2 separate regions of the Homo sapiens genome follow, and region 1 is linked to region 2. Evidence: fine-mapped expression QTL. A gene starts in region 2. The other region holds a variant in brackets. All regions are shown on one strand. Distances are from middle to middle. Region 1 has its middle 9.3 kb from the start of CAPN12. Region 2 holds the start of ACTN4 (actinin alpha 4).

Region 1 (5,371 bases), 110 kb after region 2:
GGTGCCTGACATCCAGGCATTCTTTTACACATCAGGCTCTCCCTAGCCTCTGTTCCCAATGCAACTCGTCCCAAATCTTCCTTCTTTCCCTCCCACCTGTCCCCTCAGTCCCAACCCCAAGTGTCACTGAGTCTTTCTAATCTTCCTTTTCTACAGACCTATCTGACCTCTCCCCTCCTTGCTAGGCTGAGCTAGGTCCCAATTCTTCCTCAGCCTCCGCTCCTCCACCCTATAATCCTTTTATCGCCTCCCCTCCTCACACCCGGTCCCCCTTACAGTTTCGTTCCGTGACTAGCCCTTCCCCACCTGCCCAGCAATTTACTCTTAAAAAGGTGGCTGGAGCTAAAGGCATAGTCAAGGTTAATGCTCCTTTTCCTTTATCCCAAATCAGATAGTGTTTAGGCTCTTTTTCATCAAATATAAAAATCCAGCCCAGTTCATGGCTCGTTCGGCAGCAACCCTGAGACACTTTACAGCCCTAGACCCTAAAATGTCAAAAGGCCGTCTTATTCTCAATATACATTTTATTACCCAATCTGCTCCCGACATTAAATAAAACTCCAAAAATTAAATTCCGGCCCTCAAACCCCACAACAGGACTTAATTAACCTCGCCTTCAAGGTGTACAATAATAGAGGCAGCCAAGTAGCAACATATTTCTGAGTTGCAATTCCTTGCCTCCACTGTGAGACAAACCTCAGCCACATCTCCAGCACAAAAGAACCTCCAAACGCCTAAACCGCAGTGGCCAGGCGTTCCTCCAGAACCGCCTCCCCCAGGAGCTTGCTACAAGTGCCAGAAATCTGGCCACCAGGCCAAGGAATGCCCGCAGCCCAGGATTCCTCCTAAGCCGTGTCCCATCTGTGCAGGACCCCACTGGAAATCGGACTGTCCAACTCACCTGGCAGCCACTCCCAGAGCCCCTGGAACTCTGGCCCAAGGCTCTCTGACTGACTCCTTCCCAGATCTTCTCGGCTTAGCAGCTGAAGACTGATGCTGCCCGATTGCCTCGGAAGCCCCGTAGACCATCACGGACACCAAGCTTTAAGTAACTCTCACAGTGGAAGGTAAGTCCGTCCCCTTCTTAATCAATACGGAGGCTACCCACTCCACATTACCTTCTTTTCAAAGGCCTGTTTCCCTTGCCTCCATAACTGTAGTGGGTATTGACAGCCAGGCTTCTAAACCTCTTAAAACTCCCCAACTCTGGTGCCAACTTAGACAATATTCTTTTATGCACTCCTTTTAGTTATCTCCACCTGCCCAGTTCCCTAATTAGGCCGAGACACTTCAAATTATCTGCTTCCCTGACTATTCCTGGATTACAGCTGCATCTCATTGCCGCCCTTCTTCCCAATCCAAAGCCTCCTTTGCATCCTCCTCTTGTATCCCCCCACCTTAACCCAAAGGTATAAGATACCTCTACTCCCTCCTTGGCGACCAATCATGCACCCCTTACCATCTCATTAAAATCTAATCACCCTTACCCCGCTCAATGCCAATATCCCATCCCACAGCATGCTTTGAAAGGATTAAAGCCTGTTATCACTCGCCTGTTACAGCATGGCCTTTTAAAGCCTATAAACTCTCCTTACAATTCCCCCATTTTACCTGTCCTAAAACCAGACAAGACTTACAGGTTAATTCAGGATCTGCGCCTTATCAACCAAATTGTTTTGCCTATCCACCCTGTGGTGCCAAACCCATATACTCTCCTATCCTCAGTACCTCCCTCCACAATCCATTATTCTGTTCTGGACCTCAAACATGCTTTCTTTCCTATTCCTTTGCACCTGTCATCCCAGCCTCTCTTTGCTTTCACTTGGACTGACCCTGACACCAATCAGGCTCAGCAAATTACCTGGGCTGTACTGCCTCAAGGCTTCACAGACAGACCCCATTACTTCAGTCAAGCCCAAATTTCATCCTCATCTGTTACCTATCTTGGCATAATTCTCATAAAAACACACGTGCTCTCCCTGCTGCTTGTGTCCGATTAATCTCCCAAACCTCGATCCCTTACAAAACAACAACTCCTTTCCTTCCTAGGCATGGTTAGTTCGGTCAGAATTATTACACAAGAGCCAGGCCCGCACCCTGTAGCCTTTCTGCCCAAACAACTTGACCTTACTGTTTTAGCCTAGCCCTCATGTCTCCGTGCAGCGCGTGCCGCTGCTTTAACACTTTTAGAGGCCCTCAAAATCACAAACTATGCTCAACTCACTCTCTACAGCTCTCATAATTTCCAAAATCTATTTTCTTCCTCACACCTGACGCATATACTTTCTGCTCCCTGGCTCCTTCAGCTGTACTCACTCTTTGTTAAGTCCCACAATGACCATTGTTCCTGGCCCGGACTTCAATCCGGCCTCCCACATTATTCC[A/G]GATACCACACCTGACCCCCATGACGGCATCTCTCTGATCCACCTGACATTCATCCCATTTCCCCACATTTCCTTCTTCCCTGTTCCTCACCCTGATCACGCTTGATTTATTGATGGCAGTTCCACCAGGCCTAATCGCCACACACCAGCAAAGGCAGGCTATGCTATAGTACAAGCCACTAGCCTGCCTCTTAGAACCTCTCACTTCCTTTCCATTGTGGAAATCTATCTTCAAAGAAATAAATTCTCAGTGTTCCATCTGCTATTCTACTACTCCTCATGGATTATTCAAGCCCCCTCCCTTCCCTACACATCAACTCGAGGATTTGCCCCCACCCAGGACTGGCAAATTAGCTTTACTCAACATGCCCCGAGTAAGATAACTAAAACACCTCTTAGTCTAGGTAGACACTTTCACTGGATAAGTAGAGTCCTTTCCTACAGGGTCTGAGAAGGCCACCACAGTCATTTCTTCCCTTCTGTCAGACATAATTCTTCAGTTTAGCCTTATCATTCCCTTCTGTCAGACGTAATTCCTCAATTTAGCCTTCCCACCTCTATACAGTCTGATAACAGACCAGCCTTTATTTGTCAAATCAGCCAAGCATTTTTTCAGGCTCTTAGTATTCAGTGACAGACTAAAACACACCTCACCAACCTCAGCCACCAACTTAAAAAGGACTGGACAATATTTTTACCACTTTCGCTTCTCAGAATTCAGGCCTGTCCTCAGAATGCTACAAGATACAGCCCATTTAAGTTCCTGTATAGACACTCCTTTTTATTAGGCCCCAGTCTCATTCCAGACACCAGACCAACTTAGACTGTGCCCCCAAATAACTTGTCATCCCTACTATCTTCTGTCTAGTCATACTCCTATTCACCGTTCTCAACTACTCATGCATGCCCTGCTCTTGTTTACACTGCCAGTTTACACAGTTTCTCCAAGCCATCACAGCTGATATCTCCTCGTGCTATCCCCAAACTGCCACTCTTAACTCTTGAAGTAAATAAATAATCTTTGCTGGCAAGGCTATGCTGAACCTCCTTAGGCACTCTCTAATTAGATGTCCTAGGTCCTCCCAATTCTTAGTCCTTTAATACCTGTTTTTCTCCTTCTCTTATTCCGTTTAGTTTTTCAATTCATACAAAACCGTATCCAGGCCATCACCAATCATTCTACACGACAAATGTTTCTTCTAACAACCCCACAATATCACCCTTTACCACAAAATCTTCCTTCAGCTTAATCTCTCCCACTCTAAGTTCCCACGCCGCCCCTAATACCGCTGGAAGCAGCCCTAAGAAACATCACCCATTATCTCTCCATACCACCCCCAAAAATTTTCACTGTCCCAACACTTTACTACTATTTCATTTTATTTTTCTTAATATAAGAAGACAGGAATGTCAGGCCTCTGAGCCCAAGCTAAGCCATCATATCCCCTGTGACCTGCACGTACACATCTAGATGGCCGGTTCCTGCCTTAACTGATGACATTCCACCACAAAAGAAGTGAAAATGGCCTGTTCTTGCCTTAACTGATGACATTGTCTTGTCAAATTCCTTCTCCTGGCTCATCCTGGTTCAAAAGCTCCCCTACTGAGCATCTTGTGACCCCCACTCTGCCCTCCAGAGAACCCCCCTTTGACTATAATTTTCCTTTATCTACCCAAATCCTATAAAAACAGCCCCGCCCTTATCTCCCTTCGCTGACTCTTTTCAGACTCAGCCCGCCTGCACCCAGGTGAAATAAACAGTTTTATTGCTTACACAAAGCCTGTTTGGTGGTCTCTTCACACGGACGCGAGTGAAAGTAAAACTGCTGAAAACAATTCAAAAAGGGCATTTTTTTTTTTTTTTGAGGCAGAGTCTCACTCTGTCGCCCAGGCTGGAGTGCAGTGGCACAATCTCGGCTCACTATAAGCTCCATCTCCCGGGTTCACACCATTCTCCTGCCTCAGCCTCCCGAGTAGCTGGGACTACAGGCACCCACCACCACGCCTGGCTAATTTTCTGTATTTTTAGTAGAGACGGGGTTTCACCGTGTTAGCCAGGATGTTCTCGATCTCCTGACCTCGTGATCCACCCTCCTTGGCCTCCCAAAGTGCTGGGATTACAGGCGTGAGCCACCGTGCCAGGAAAATGGAAAATTTTAAAGGAGCAAGTGAAAAACAGCTCATTATGTACAGGGGAACAATAGAATTAATGGCTAGATTCTCCTAGGAACAATGGAGGCCAGAAGGCAGATGAATGATTTATTCAAAACACTGAAAGAAAAATAAAACTGTCAACTGATAATTCTATATTCAACAAAACTATACTTCAAAACAAAAGGCAAAAGAAAATCATTCCCAGATAAACAAAAAGAGAATTCCTGACTAGCATATACCTAAACGCAGGGAATACTCAAGGAAACCCCTCACACTGAAAATGACAGTAGACAGAAACTCAAATCCACAGGAAGAAATGAAGAGCCCCAGAAATGTATTTTTCTTTTCTTCTTTTAATTTATTTTAAAACATAAGGTCAGGCTGGGCACGGTGGCCCACGCCTATAATCCCAGCACTTTGGGAGGCCGAGGCAGGCAGATCATGAGGTCAAGAGATCGAGACCATCCTGGCTAATGTGGTGAAACCCCGTCTCTACTAAAAATACAAAAAAAATTAGCCGGGTGTGGTGGCGGGTGCCTGTAGTCCCAGCTACTCGGAAGGCTGAGGCAGGAGAATGGCGTGAACCTGGGAGGCGGAGCTTGCAGTGAGCTGAGATTGCACCACTGCACTCCAGGCTGGGCGACAGAGCAAGACTCCATCTCAAAAAAAAAAAAAAAAAAAGAAAAAAACCATATAAGGCCGGGTATGGTGGCTCAAACCTGTAATCCCAGCACTTTGAGGCCAAGGTGGGTGGATTGCTTGAGCTCAGGAATTCAAGACCAGCCTGGGCAACATGGTGAAACCCCATCTCTACCCAAAATACAAAAATTAGC
Region 2 (5,361 bases):
AATTTCCTGAAGAACTGGATGGGGTTGTGAAGACAAAGAGGCATTAAGGATGACCGCAAGGTCTGTAGCCTCAGCAACTGCAAGGCTGGAGGTGCACGAATTGAAGAGGGATGACTGTGGGATGGGATGACCAAGCTTGGGGGGAAGATCAGGAACTCTATTTTGGATATTTATTATTATTATTATTTGAGATGGAGTTTCGCTCTTGTTGCCCAAGCTGGAGTACAATGGTGCAATCTTGGCTCACCACAACCTCCGTCTCCCAGGTTCAAGCTATTCTCCTACCTCAGCCTCCTGAGTAGCTGGGATTACAGGCATGTGCCACTATGCCTGGCTAATTTTGTATTTTTAGTAGAGACGGAGTCGTTGGCCCGGCTGGTCTTGAACTCCTGACCTGGGGTGATCCGCCCACTTCGGCCCCCCAAAGTGCTGGGATTACAGGCGTGAGCCACCACACCTGGCCGGATATTTATTTATTTATTTTTATTTTTATTTTAGACGGAGTCTTGCTCTGTCGCCCAGGCTGGAGTACAGTGGCGCGATCTCGGCTTACTGCAGCCTCTGCCTCCCGAGTTCCAGTGATTCCCCTACCTCAGCCCCCTGGGTAGCTGGGATTACAGGTGCATGCCACCAAGCCCGGCTAATTTTTGTATTTTTAGTAGAGACGGGGTTTCACCATGTTGGCCAGGCTGGCCTCTAACTCCTGACCTCGTGATCTGCCTGCCTCGGCCTCCCAAAGTGCTGGGATTACAGGCATGAGCCACTGCGCCCGGCCATTTATTTTTAATGTAAACATTTTTTTGTAGAGATGAGATCTTGTTATGTTACCCAGTCTGGCCTCAAACTCTTGGGCTCAAGCACTCTTCCAGCCTTGACTCCCCAGAGTGCTGGGATTGCAAGAGTAAGCCACCAGTGCCTGGCTGAATATTTAAATTTAAGATGCTTCCTGATGCAGTGGCTCGCACCTTTGTTTAAATGTCTGCCTTCTCCATGAAGCCTACCTGAGTAGTTTATTTGCATTCCAGCCCATGCTTGATTTTTCTCCAAATACTCAACACCTTGGAATATACAATACTACCTATTTTTTACTTTTATGTATATTTTTGAGACAGGATTTCGCTTCTGGAGTGCATTGGTGTGATCACAGCTCACTGCAGACTGGAACTCCTGGGCTCAAGTGATGTCCCTTCCTCAGCCTCCTGAGTAGCTGGGACTACAGGTGCACACAGCCATGCCCAGTGAATTTTTACATTTCTTGTAGAGACAGGTTCTTGTTATGTTGCCTAGGCTGGCCTTGAACTCTTGGGCTCAAGCCATCCTCCCGCCTCAGCTTCCCAAAGTGCTGGGATTACAGGTGTGAGCCCCTGTGCCTGTCTACATATTTTTTAAAATTTTGAGTGTTGAGGCCAGGCGCAGTGGCTCATGCCTGTAAGCCCAGCACTTTGGGAGGCCGAGGTGGGCGGATCACCTGAGGTCGGGAGTTTGAGACCAGCCTGACCAACATGGAGAAACCCCGTCTCTACTAAAAATACAAAATTAGCCAGGAGTGGTGGCACATGCCTGTGATCCCAGCTACTCGGGAGGCTGAGGCAGGAGAATAGCTTGAACCTGGGAGGCGGAGGTTGCAGTGAGCCCAGATCACGCCATTGCACTCCAGCCTGGGCAACAAGAGCGAAACTCCGTCTCAAAAAAAAAAATTTGTGTGTTGGTTGGGCGCGGTGGCTCACGCCTGTAATTCCAGCACTTTGGGAGGCTGAGGCGGGAGGATCGCTTGAGCTCAAGAGTTCAAGACCAGCCTGGCCAACATGGTGAAACCCCGTCTCTACTAAAAAAATACAAAAATTAGCCGGGTGTGGTGGAGCATGCCTGTGTTCCCAGCTACTCGGGAGGCTGAGGCAGGAGAATTGCTTGAATCCGGGAGGCGGAGGTTGCAGTGAGCCGAGATCGCGCCACTGCACTCCAGCCTGGGAGACAGAGCGAGACTCCGTCTCAAAAAATAATAAAAATAAAAGTAGATTTGTGTGTATGTGGCTTCCTTTACTAGAAGGTAGTTTCATGAAAGTTGGGATTTTTTTCTGTTTTTAGTGCCTGCGTAAAACATAGTCTGGCACAGAATAGGTGTTCAATAAATATTTGTTGAATTTGTGTCGCTGAATGGGAACCCGGTGCAGTGCATTCCAAGCCTGAGCTGGTTCAGGTCCGATGGCGGGGCCTGCCCTTATGAATCATTCATGATCTGGCCCCGCCCATACGCGAACGACGCGCGCGTTCACGCCGGAGAGGGGGCGCGGCTCGCCCCCGGGCTGAGTCGGGCGGCCAGGAAGCGGGACTCTGCGCAGGCGCCAAGCTCCGGAGCGCGGCCTTGGTGCCTTTTCTGGTTTGGCAGGCGCGCGCGCGCGGGAGGGCGGCAACCTCGGCGCTGTGCGCAGGCGCGGCGGGCAGTGCGCAGGCGCGGGCGGAGGGCGGGCTGAAGCAGCTGAAGCGGCGGTAGCGGCGGCGGCTCGGGCAGAGGGGCGGGAGCTGAGGCGGGAGCGGACAGGCTGGTGGGCGAGCGAGAGGCGGCGGAATGGTGGACTACCACGCGGCGAACCAGTCGTACCAGTACGGCCCCAGCAGCGCGGGCAATGGCGCTGGCGGCGGGGGCAGCATGGGCGACTACATGGCCCAGGAGGACGACTGGGACCGGGACCTGCTGCTGGACCCGGCCTGGGAGAAGCAGCAGCGCAAGGTGCGCGGCCCGCGGGCCGGACGGGCTGGAGGGGCTTTTCTGAGGGGGCCCGGGGAGGGGTGGGAGGTCCTGAAAGGTAACTGGAGCGTCTGTGATGGGAACGGGGGGGTCCCGAGAAGGAATTGGCGGGTCCGGGAAGGGAATTGGAGTCCTGAGGAGGAATCGCCGAGCTAGAGGAAGGAATTGGGAATCTGAAAAGAGAATTGGCGGCTGGGTGGGGAATATGGGAGTCAAATAAAAGGAATCGGGAAGGCTGATGAAGGATTTGGAGGGTCTGGGCGTGCCATTAGGGGAAACCGAGGAGATGACTGGGCAGGCTGAAATGGAACTGGGATCCGAGGCGGGCTTGAAGGGTCGGAGCATGGGTTGGGGGTGCTGGGAGGAGAATCAGGGGAGGCTGAGAAGGGAATTTCTGGGTCTGGGAAGTGTGAGGAGGAGCTTGAGTGTGGAGGGGTTGGTTATTTGGAGAGCAGAAAGATCTGAAGGAGATTGGAATTGGGGGAGCCTCAGGTTGGGGGAGTTATAAAGGGGATGAAGAATCAAGTGTGAGGATGGAGTGGAGATTGTGGGGTCTGAAGACGGGTGGGAAGACTAGGGAGGCTGGGAAGATGAAAACAGGGGCTAAGGGTAGAATTGAGCATGAAAAGACATGGGCTTAGGGTGTGAGGAGGGTAGAGGTGCCAGGACTGGGGGTCTGAGGAGGGTGGGGTGCGGAAGGAAGAAGTTAAGGGGCCCGTGAATCAGACGTTTTTGAAGGGGGTGAGATTTATTTGTGGTGCCCTGTTCCAAAGGGGAGAAGATTAAGAGATAGGAGGAATAATAAGAGGAATTGATGAGGGATGGAGAAGCCGAAGTAGAGGGGATACGGAGAGTGGGGATAATTTGGGGAGGGATTTCTAAAGAATTGATGGGAAGCTGAAAAGCTAAAGCGTTGGAGAGAATGAGGAAGTGTAGAGGGAGAAGGTGAGATCGGTGGGAGGGAGGGTGAGCTGGAATGGTGGATAATGGGAGAGAGGTTCGTTTAGGAAAATGAAAGTCTCATTAGAAAGGGAATGCGTAATGGATAGACTGAGAAAGGAATTTGAGGAGGGGGTGCTGGCTCCTGGAGGTGCAGTCCCGGGACTGGAGAGCGTGTGTGTGTCGTGCAGGCAGAATGAGTTTGGGGAGGAAGCGTTGAGAGTGTCCAGGAAGAATTGTGTCTTTTTTGGAGAGACCGGAGGTAGGTGAAGGGATCCTGAAGCAGAGACTGTGTTCAGGTGGCACTGTTTTTTTGGGGGGCGGGGGGGGCAACTTGGTAGGGCCCCACAGCAGTGAAAAGGTGATCAGAAGTGGAGTGGGATCCCCGAGCGAGGTGTCAGTGTCTGTGGGGGGGGGATAAATCCAGTGTGGTTGAGGGGGGAGCTCTGAGTGTGTGCAGGAAGAGCTAAAGAAAGGAGCGTGGTGAGTGGGTGTGTGTGGGGGGAAGGGGTTGTTCAGAAGTTTTGTGCGTGAAATGGGTGGGAGGTACTTGAAGTTGGAAGCATTTCGTGGGATCTGGAGATCTGGATTTTCTTTCCAGATTTGTTACTGATTCGCTCTGTGGCCTTGGACAAGACCCTTGAACTCTCCGGGCAGTTTTGTTATCTGCAAAATGCAAAGGGATCCGAGGGTTCCCTGCGGTGATTCTGTTAATAAAGAGGGATGTGTGTAGAGTTGGGACTTTGGACAGGGCTCTGAAGGTTTGGGAGAGTGAGTTTGGTGGAGATTTTTCAGGAACAGGCTACAGGGCTTTGAGTGGTGACCTGGCAGAGTGGGGAGTGACTGGAAGCCTCTCGAGGGCGCGAGTTGGTGGCCAGGAGCTTGGCACAGGCAGCCTAGCCCAGGCTGGAGGGGAAAGGGTGGGAAGGGTGGAAGGAGCAGCTGTTCCAAGGCAGCCTGAGGTGGGGCCGGGCATAACCTTGGGTCCATTACCAGCGTTGCTTGAATTTCCTCATCCGTAGTAACTGAGGGGCATGGCAGTGGCTTGGTGGGAGGGGTGTCCTTATCCGTGGCCCCACCTACTGCAGGATGGACAGGTTGCGATAGTTGGCATAAATTCACTTTTTGAGGGGAAGGTGAGATCTGTTCTGGAGTCTCAACAATAATTTATTGCCTGAGGCAGTGCCAGGTTGGAAAAGGTTGCCAAGAGACCTGGAAAGTTGGGAGGGAGCAGGGGCCACAGTGGTGGTTTTGAGAATGTCTAGGCTTTGTCTTCTGCAGCTGAAGGTGCTGGAGAAAATAAACCCCTCCCCCTTTTTTCTCAGGTGATAAGGGTGGGGGGACCTTCCTTTTCTCTCCCTTCCTGTCTTCTGCCACTCCTCAAGTGACTCCTTTTGCGAGCCGGGTTTCACTCCCTCCCGAGAGTTAGGGTGTGGGCTTTGTTCGTGGTTATAGTGTCCCTTGCCTACAGGGTGAGGCTGGGGCACCATTCAGGCCCTGGGTGGAAACCAGGACTCCCCAGAACCTCCAGGCCTTGCTGCCATGTGTCATTCTCTTACCTCCCAGCTCCCTTCCTCTGGGGCCGGGCAGGTTTGAGGGAAAAGGGTGGCTCACAGAGTCCGCTAATACCATCTGCTTTCGTGTCTCAGCCAGAGCCAGATTCTAGTACCTCCTGC

Evidence for each region. PIP is the estimated chance that this variant, and not a neighbour inherited with it, causes the effect. A credible set is the group of variants that fine-mapping cannot tell apart.
Region 1: its variant is the best candidate, but not a certain one, in a credible set for the expression of ACTN4 in whole blood (INTERVAL, PIP 0.67).

What each region holds. Positions count from the first base shown.
Region 1 is chr19:38,751,097-38,756,467 of GRCh38, forward strand. No RefSeq gene overlaps it. Among named protein-coding and RNA genes, the nearest start is that of CAPN12, 9.3 kb to the left of the region's middle. The variant A/G (reference allele first, on the strand shown) is at 2,385.
Region 2 is chr19:38,645,180-38,650,540 of GRCh38, forward strand. It overlaps ACTN4 (actinin alpha 4), which reads left to right and starts at 2,470. Exons shown (of 21, transcript NM_004924.6): 1 at 2,470-2,728. The coding sequence starts at 2,567. RefSeq lists silencers at 2,310-2,499, 2,730-2,809, 3,993-4,191, 4,150-4,444 and enhancers at 4,150-4,444, 5,073-5,152.